2 separate regions of the Homo sapiens genome follow, and region 1 is linked to region 2. Evidence: fine-mapped QTL for protein levels in blood plasma. A gene starts in region 2. The other region holds a variant in brackets. All regions are shown on one strand. Distances are between the middles of the regions.

Evidence for each region. PIP is the chance, under the fine-mapping model, that this variant and not a neighbour inherited with it causes the effect. Protein levels are from antibody-based Olink assays in UK Biobank. Linkage for the fine-mapping came from a reference panel and not from the study's own genotypes, which makes the PIPs less certain.
Region 1: its variant is fine-mapped to the plasma level of the ELN protein (UK Biobank, PIP above 0.99). The variant lies in the coding sequence of ELN. If it changes the protein, the assay may bind it differently, which can mimic a change of level.

The regions. Positions count from the first base shown.
Region 1 is chr7:74,060,240-74,062,946 of GRCh38, reverse strand. ELN (elastin) reads right to left here. Exons shown (of 33, transcript NM_000501.4): 25 at 2,446-2,571; 26 at 1,808-1,846. It overlaps ELN-AS1 (ELN antisense RNA 1), which reads left to right and starts at 667. Exons shown (of 2, transcript NR_183555.1): 1 at 667-737. RefSeq lists a silencer at 499-691 and enhancers at 494-788, 332-832, 833-1,333. The variant C/G (reference allele first, on the strand shown) is at 2,452.
Region 2 is chr7:74,025,337-74,030,841 of GRCh38, reverse strand. ELN (elastin) reads right to left here and starts at 2,669. Exons shown (of 33, transcript NM_000501.4): 1 at 2,573-2,669. The coding sequence starts at 2,654. RefSeq lists enhancers at 1,342-2,313, 3,286-4,258.

The sequences.
Region 1 (2,707 bases), 34 kb before region 2:
TCACTGCAGCCTCCAACTCCTGGGCTCATGCGATCCTCCTGCCTTAGCCTCCCGAAGGTGTGAACCACTGTGCCTGGCCTTAAAAGTTCTTTTGTAAGCCGGGTGCGGTGGCTCACACCTGTAATCCCAGCACTTTGGGAGGCTGAGGCTAGTGGATCACCTGAGGTCAGGAGTTTGAGACCAGCCTGGCCAACACGGTGAAACCCTGTTTCTACGAAAAATACAAAAATTAGCCAGGCGTGGTGGCGGGCGCCTGTAATCCCAGCTACTTGGAAGGCTGAGGCAGGAGAATCACTTGAACCCGGGAGATGGAGGCTGCAGGGAGCCAAGATCGTACCACTGCATTCCAGCCTGGGCGACAGAGCAAGACTCTGTCAAAACAAACAAACAAACAAACAAACAACGGTAATAGTATCTACAGCAGGCACTTAACATTTTGAGTGCTTCACACTTAGCAGCCCATTTTTTATGCATTGCAGCAGGAAAGGTAGGCACTATTGTCATTCCCATTTTGCAGATGAGAACGCTGAGGCAGAGCAGAGGTTAAGCAGTGTGCTCAGGGCTTCAGGGACGGGAAGTGGCTGGGGAGCCTGCGCCCTTCGCGGCTCCACCACATGACGTCACTCTGTTTCCCTGGCAATGTCTGTTGACTCAGGCCTGCCAAGCAGTCAGCAGTGAGCAGGGGAGGAGGCCAGGGCTGCTGGGGGTCGGCGCTGAGGAAGCCAGGATTTTCCGAGGTAGAAACTGGCCCCAAGTGGACCTGCCCGGCTGGTTGGTGGATCCCTGGGGGAGTCTTCCACCTCCCACCAACGCTGCTCACAGGAGGCCAGGAATTCAGGGGCTACAGACAGCGTGGGTCTGGCCAGGCAGGGCTGCCAGAGCGCCAAGTGCAGAGGCTGTGGGACTGCCACGTCCTCTGGGCTGGCTCGTGGTGGGAGCGGTCCTGCTGGCAGGACAGGAAGGCGGGCGGGGGCCCGGGGTGCCCAGATGAGGAATACCAGCTCCTTTGCTCGGGCCAGAGAGCTGGGGTGGAGGCAGAGACTGCCCAGACTCCTCATACCCACAGCAGGCCCAGTCCCTTCCTGGACACAGGGACCATGTAACTGTCAGGGTCAGGGCAAGCTTAGGGATGGTGGAATTGCCTCCTGGGGGGCAACTGGGATTTCAAGGGTGTTTTTGGTGGTCACAGGGGTTGAAGGCACCATAAGCATTTAGTGGGCAGGGGCCAGGTTTTTAAACTGTCATAAACGTGTCCTAGAAACTGCCTTTTTCTTTTTCTTTTCTTTTCTTTTTTTGAGATACAGTCTCGCTCTGTCGTCCAGGCCGGAGTGCAGTGGCGTGATCTCGGCTCACTGCAACCTCCATCTCCTGGGTTCAAGCGATTCTCCTGCCTCAGCCTCCCGAGTAGCTGGGATTACAGGTGCCCGCCACCACACCTGGCTAATTTTTGTGTTTTTAGTAGAGATGGGGTTTCACCATATTGGTCAGGCTGGTCTGGAACCCCCGACCTCAGTTGATCTGCCCACCTCGGCCTCCCAAAGTGCTGGGATTACAGGTGCCCGCCACCACGCCTGGCTAATTTTTGAATTTTTAGTAGAGATGGGGTTTAACCATATTGTTCAGGCTGGTCTGGAACTCCTGACCTCAGGTGATCTGCCTGCCTCGGCCTCCCAAAGTGCTGGGATTACAGGTGTGAGCCACCACGCCCGGCCGAAACTGCCTTTTTCTATTGTGACCACCCCAGTCCTGTGCTGTCAGGGATGGTGTGGTGGCAAGGGAGCCACAAGTGGTTGTGGGGTGCACTCACCATATTTGGCTGCTTTAGCGGCAGCCAGGGCTCCAGGTACTGGGGAGAAAGAAAAGTTGGGGAGTGGTCAGGAGCCGAGCTCTGTGCCTGGGAGTTCTGCCGCCTCCTCTAGAGAGCCCTCCCTGACTTCCTTGGCCTCTATTGCTTCCTCAAAGCCCTGAAGCTGTACAGGCACAGAGCTTTAGGGCTGAACAGTGCCTCCACCTTCCGTCTGCCCCTTCCTTCTCTCCCCAGGCCTAGCATGGACTGCCTGAGGCTGGGCACAGAGTGGGGCTCAGTCACCAGCTGGTGAAGAACTGGAGTTCCTAGTGGTCCCCTGGCCACAGAGCACTGCTGAAGGGGAGCCAGGCTGATCTACCTGCTCCTTCCCTGGTTGGAGGGCAGGCTTTTTCTCAGTCTGGAGCCCTGCCACCCCTCTACTGAGGAGGCAGATACTCTGCAATTGGGCAGCCTGGGGTCCCTTGGCCTGGTCTGCCCTCCTCCCGCTATCTGTTACCCCCAGATGCTTAGGAGAACCTAACAAGGATTTTACTATGCACCCCTGGGTGATGAGGGGGTGCTGGGGAGGTGCTGAGAGGAGGAGGGATCTCCTTCCCTGAGCTCAGGGGACAGGCTCCGCCTAACTCCCTCATCTGCACCTGCCC[C/G]GAAGCCAGGAACACCAGCACCAACTCCAAGTCCAGGAACACCAGCACCAACTCCAAGTCCAGGGACGCCGACACCAACTCCAAGTCCAGGGATGCCAGCACCAAGCCCAGCTGCAGCTCCTGCAGACAGAGGGCAGTGGTGGCGACAGCAGGCAGGGAGCATGCCCCTAAGGAGGTGTCCTGCCCAGGGAGCTGAGCCTAGTCCCAGAGGAAGGGGCCCAGATCCAAGCAGCGGCCTCCTCCCTGGCTGTTGCCC
Region 2 (5,505 bases):
ACCTGGGAAGCCTGAAAAGTCTGTGTCCAGGTCCCTCTCCAACCAAAGCAAGCAGGGATTCTTGGGTGGGAAGTCTAATAGATAGCCAGGTTGAAAACCCCTGTTCCTACTTAAGGACGGAAAACAATAATTAAAAAAATATTTAAAAAGAGGCAGTGGCTCATGCCTGTAATCCAAGCACTTTGGGAGGCGGAGGTGGGAGGATCACTTGAGCCCAGGAATTCAGACCAGCCTGGACAACACAGCGAGACCCTGTCTCAATTTAAAAAAAATAAAAAAGGTAAAAAAATAAAAATAAAAAAGGAAAATAAAAGAAAAGGAAACCTCTGTTCCAAACCATCTTCAGTTCTGAAATCAGGAAAAAAAAAAAAAAAAATCCCTGATACTATTTCTGGGGGATGGGGAAGAATTATCCCTGGGTTAATTTCTCATGCTCACTTTTGAAACAGCCTGGGAGCTGTGCGGCTTGTCCCCTCCTCCTGCTCCCCCACCCCCGCAACAGGGTTCCTTCCTTGGAGCCGCTGAACTTGCATAAGTGACACCCTCCTCCTTGAGGGAGAAGCCAGGCTCCCCCAGGACAGCCAGGTGAGTGGCAGTGAGCATGTGACTGAGCGCTCCACTCCCTGTGTTGGCTCCCCGACCTCTGCAGACTTCAGTAGCACTTCTGTGCAAAACCCCACACGAGCTCATCAGTTCACACACCCCTTATTTGGACCTAGCAAGTCCAGCCACCTGGGACAGAGCTGAGATTGATCTCTGCAAAGTGTGAGGCCAGCTGGGCGTTTAGCGGTGTCACTGAGGACACAAGGAGAGAGCTGATTCTGCCTAGGGCATGCCTGCTTTAAGGACTCAGCCCCAAGCCTTCCCCTCCCCAAATGTTGCCTGCTAGCTCACTCCTAACCCCCTTGCCCCTTGACCTGGGGCAGAGAGCTGGCTGATACTAACCCCCGGGGACTGCCTTAGCCTGCCGGAGCCTCAGCTTCCTTGTTTGTCAAGTGATGATAATAATTTCTAATTCTCAAGGTTCCTTGATGATGAACTGCCACCCTATAGGTGGTGGCCCCATCTGGGAAGAAGGGTGGCTGGGTGTTTGGGGGCTACACCTGGGGAGGAGGCTGAGACGGACCCGGGGCTGCTGCTTTCAGGCCCTGGCTCGTTGCCCCTGCTGGGGCCCGCCTGTGGGTACCCATGTCCCTTGGCCTCATCCAGGTCCAGCAGCGGACCCTGCACAGGAAGCTGTTCAATCTCACGGAAACAGCTGCAGCTCCTGCCCAGGCCCTTGACTCCACCCCGTGGCCCTCCCGCCCCCCACTCAGCGTTTGGTTCTCATGGCAAGGAGGACTCCCGAGGAAACCAGACTCCACCCAGACCCCCCTACCAAATGCCCTCCTTTTTCCCATGCCCGGGAGCCTCTTCTGTCCTCCCCCGTTGGCCGCGGCATAGCAGCCCCACAGGGCACACCCTCAAACCCCATAACCAACTGTGCCTGGGTTGGGGCACATAGCAGATGGCCCAGCAGTGCCCCAGGATCCACTCCAGCCTCTGTCTCAGCCACACTGCCTCTGCCAGGAGACAGACACCTTCTCCAGCCCGCCTTTCCATGCTTGCGTGCCACATCGCACACACATTCACACACACAGATGTACACACTCCATAACACACACAGTGACAGTCCACACCAGTGTCACACCTGGATGCCAGATCGCCCATGTCTACATGTGTACATGTCTACATGTCTGTCAGGTGGCAGACTTTTGCACACACTAAGGAGCAGCTTCATATACCTCCTCCAAACATACGCATACACCTGCCTAAGGATGAACCTGTGAGCAGACATATGTACCCCTCCAGAAATCCCTTTCCCTGTTCAGTGACACAGCCGGGCATCTGAACACATGCACACCTGTGCATGCACACATACACACACGAGCACACAGCACGCTCATTCCTGTGTGCATGCACACACACACACACACACAAATGCATACCAGGAGTCCCTGCCTGCCTCAGCAGGGAGAACACAGCAGCAGCTTCCCAACCTGCAAACCCATCCTCAGCGGAGCCCTGACCTTCCTGACGGGGGGATCCCGGCTTCCCAGGGGTCAAGGAACCTGCTGAGGTCACACAGCTCACTGCGGTTGAGCTGGTATCAAGCCCAGGTTCCCTGTCCCCAGGGCTGGTGTGCACCCCAGCTGTGTCCACAGGTGTGCAGACTGTGGTGTCTCCAGACCCAGGGGTTCCCGCTGGGCCCTCCCCCAGGATGCTCTGATCCCCCTACAGGGCGGGCACCCGGGCACCTGAGCAGGGGCCCCCTCAGCCCTCGCAGGGCAGCAAAGCCTGGATGCTGGGCTGGGACTATTCTGAGTCGAGGGTGTCTCTTTGACAGGTTCCTCCTGGGCACGGGGCTGGCTCCTGGGAGGGGCAGTTCCGAGGACCCAGTGGCTGAGGGGCTCCCACCTGGGACCCCTTGCAGTTCCCAGGGACGAAGGTCTCCCCCTTGAGCGTCTAGTCACCTGGCCCAAAGGGCCCGCAGCTGTGGGCAGCGCTGGGGACAGGGGCGAGGGGTCCTTACCTCCAGGCCGAGAGGGGTGGAGGATGGACAGCAGGAGCAGGAGGACTCCGGGCCGCGGGGCCGCCGCCGTCAGACCCGCCATCTCGGGGAGAAATGCCCCAGCCCGCTCTCCGCACCTCGTTTTATCCCCAAAGCCTAATTGTTGCCTCGTCGGCTGTGAGGGAAAGAGGGAGGGAGAGAGGGCGGGCGGGAGGGCGGGAGAGGGGGGAGGCCTGGGGGAGGGGGCCGCGGGGAGGGGACAATTACGAAAGGCCCGGCTCACAAGCCTCCCAGGCCCGGGCTGCTGGACTGCGAGCTTTTTTCCTTGACACACACACGCACACACATGCACACAAGCACACACTCACACACACACACTTTCCCCCATCTCTTTCCCGCTTTCCCTCTGCGACTGTTCTTTCGCTGCTGGCCCTGTTCCCGCCAGAAAGAGCGAGGGGGGCCTCTGCCAGGACAGCCCTCGGGAGAGGAAGCAGAAGGGAGGGCCTGGCGGCCAGGCCAAAAATCCCAGCCCCAGCCAAGGCCCGAGTGGCCAGGCCCCCGCCCCTCCGGCTGGGCCCCGGGCCCAGTGTGAGGATACGGGCCAGCTGTCCCGCGCCTCAGCCCCCACCCCGGCCCTCCAGACTCCCCAACACCCCCAGGTCTGGCTAGAGACAGGTTCTGCCCAAAGCTGGGGAGGGGAGGCATTGGGCAGGTCTGGGGGTTTGGGGGGTGCGATGTCTACAGAGGCCGGGGGGCTGCAGGTTGAATGGCCTGGAAGGTAGGCCCGGGTTGGTATTGCTCTGGGAGGGATCTGGGGGGAAGGTAGGGGACCCTGGACAGGGCTGCATTCTGCAGGGGCCAAGGTCTCTGCCTAGCGCCTGAAGCTGGGGAGGAGGTGTTGGGTGGGTCTGGGGTGGATGCCTGCAGATGCCAGGGGGTTAGAGGCAGGGGAATGGCTTGGGAGTTAAGGCCATGTTGGTGCTGTCCCCAGGGGCATCTGGAGCACATGGAGGATCCCGACACACAGGGTTCTATTCTGCATGGGTCAAGGTCACAGCCCTATACCCAGCCCCATGCAGGCCGCAGGGTCTGGTAAAAATCAGGCTGGATCCCCAGGTGCCCTGTGGGGGAACAGGGAGGTGGGAGCCCCCCGCAGACTGACAGGCAGCCCAGCTTCCCATTATCACTGGGTCACCTCCCATCCCCACGCTGAGCACAGCTAGCGCCCACACCAGTCTGGGAGCTTCTCGACTGCTGTTCTCCCGGCCCCTCTGGGAAGGCTGACATTCCGCTGGTGGCCAGGAGGGGGCGGCCTGCACTGAAACAGCTGGGACCACGTTCCTGGAGAACTCTGCATTTCTGCCCCCAGGACTGAGCTGGACGGGGACCCTGGGGGATTTTGGGGGTTGGAGTGTGGGATGGAACAGGGGAGGGTCGTGTCCCCCACCCCTCACTTCCCACTACTGCTAGAGGAGAAGAAATGTGAGACCTAGAGAATAGGAGAGGGAAACTTGTTCCTTGTCCTAGGTCACAGCCAGTCAGGGAACAGCATGGAAGCCACACGCCCTGTGGGCTTTTCCCTGCACCACGATGGCTCCGAGGGATGAGTTAAAGACCCCTTGTGGAGGCAGGAGCACTGTGGCAGTCTGGAGTGCCAGCAGGGGTGGCTCAGCGTGGAAAGGTCAAATGCAGGCATTGGTCAAAGGCAGGTATTGGTGGACCTAGAAGTAAATTTCTGGCTCTAGCCTTTCTGGTAGGAAAACCTCTCCACAGAGCATCAGTTTCCTTATCTGTCTACAGGTGATCAGTATTCCTAGCTAAGAGATTATTGCAAAGACAAATACAACGTGGTCTTGTATTTCTGCTAGATCAAAAATGCTCTGTGTTCAGCTGGTGCTAGGACTGGTGTCAATACCACAGTTGCCGTCACTCGCTCTGCAAGTACTCTGCTTCTAGGACAGCTATCAGGCTTTGGTCTATACGGGGCCACCCCAGGACCCTGGACAAACCCTTCCTTTTCCCTGGGTCTTTGGAGGGAGCAGCTCTGGAATTTTGGAAGGTAGGGGCATGCTGGGAGAATTGTCTTGAAGATGTACGCACACAGCCAGTGTACAGCTCTTACTTACGGTGTGTGTTTATTTGGGGGTGCTTTGAGGGTAGCTGATGGAGATTATGCTGGGGTGAAAGCCCCCCCAAGCCACCCTTTGTTGGTGGGGTTAGGGGCTGCTCAGGGGCAGGGTCTGAAGCTCGATGCCCAGGATGTGCCTGCTGCAGGGGAGGGGAAGTCAATGGTATATCTGCGTGCCTCCGCCTGCCTGGGAAGGAGGAAGGCAGGGGCTACTGTGGGGAGCTGGACCCCTCTCTTCTCGAGGCAGTGACACGGGCAGGAACCAGCTTTCAGACTTGCAAACCGCAGTCTGCACAGAGTCTTTATTAATTCCAGGACGGGGAGAGAGTCCGGAGCCAGGGGGAGAGAGTTTGCAGTGGGGGGATCCAGGAGGGGTGTGGAGGGGCACTCACAGGAATAGACTTGAGGTGGCTGGAACAGACCTCTCCCCTGAGGCCGGGGGCCCTGTGTCCTGCCCCCAGCCTGTGCGCTGCTTCTGCTTAGCAGCCTCTGCTCATTGCAGGAGCTCCACGAACATAACATGCAACAAGATTGCAAAAGGGGGCCTCAATTCACAATCAAATCCATTGCACTGAATATCCATGCCGTGTAGTCTGATGCATAAGATACATAATGTAAGAACTAGAGATGACAGTCATCGGCCACCATCCATTCATTCATTCATTTACTTGTTCATTCAAGACCCCATCAGTACTCAAATGCTTAGTGTCACCTCCTTGCCTAGCTGTATGACTAAATAAGGTCATACATGCAGAATTGCCCACAGAGGGCTACCGGGTGCACCTGGCTGCCTGGTGATCGTTGGTCTTGCCGTTATCATTGACAA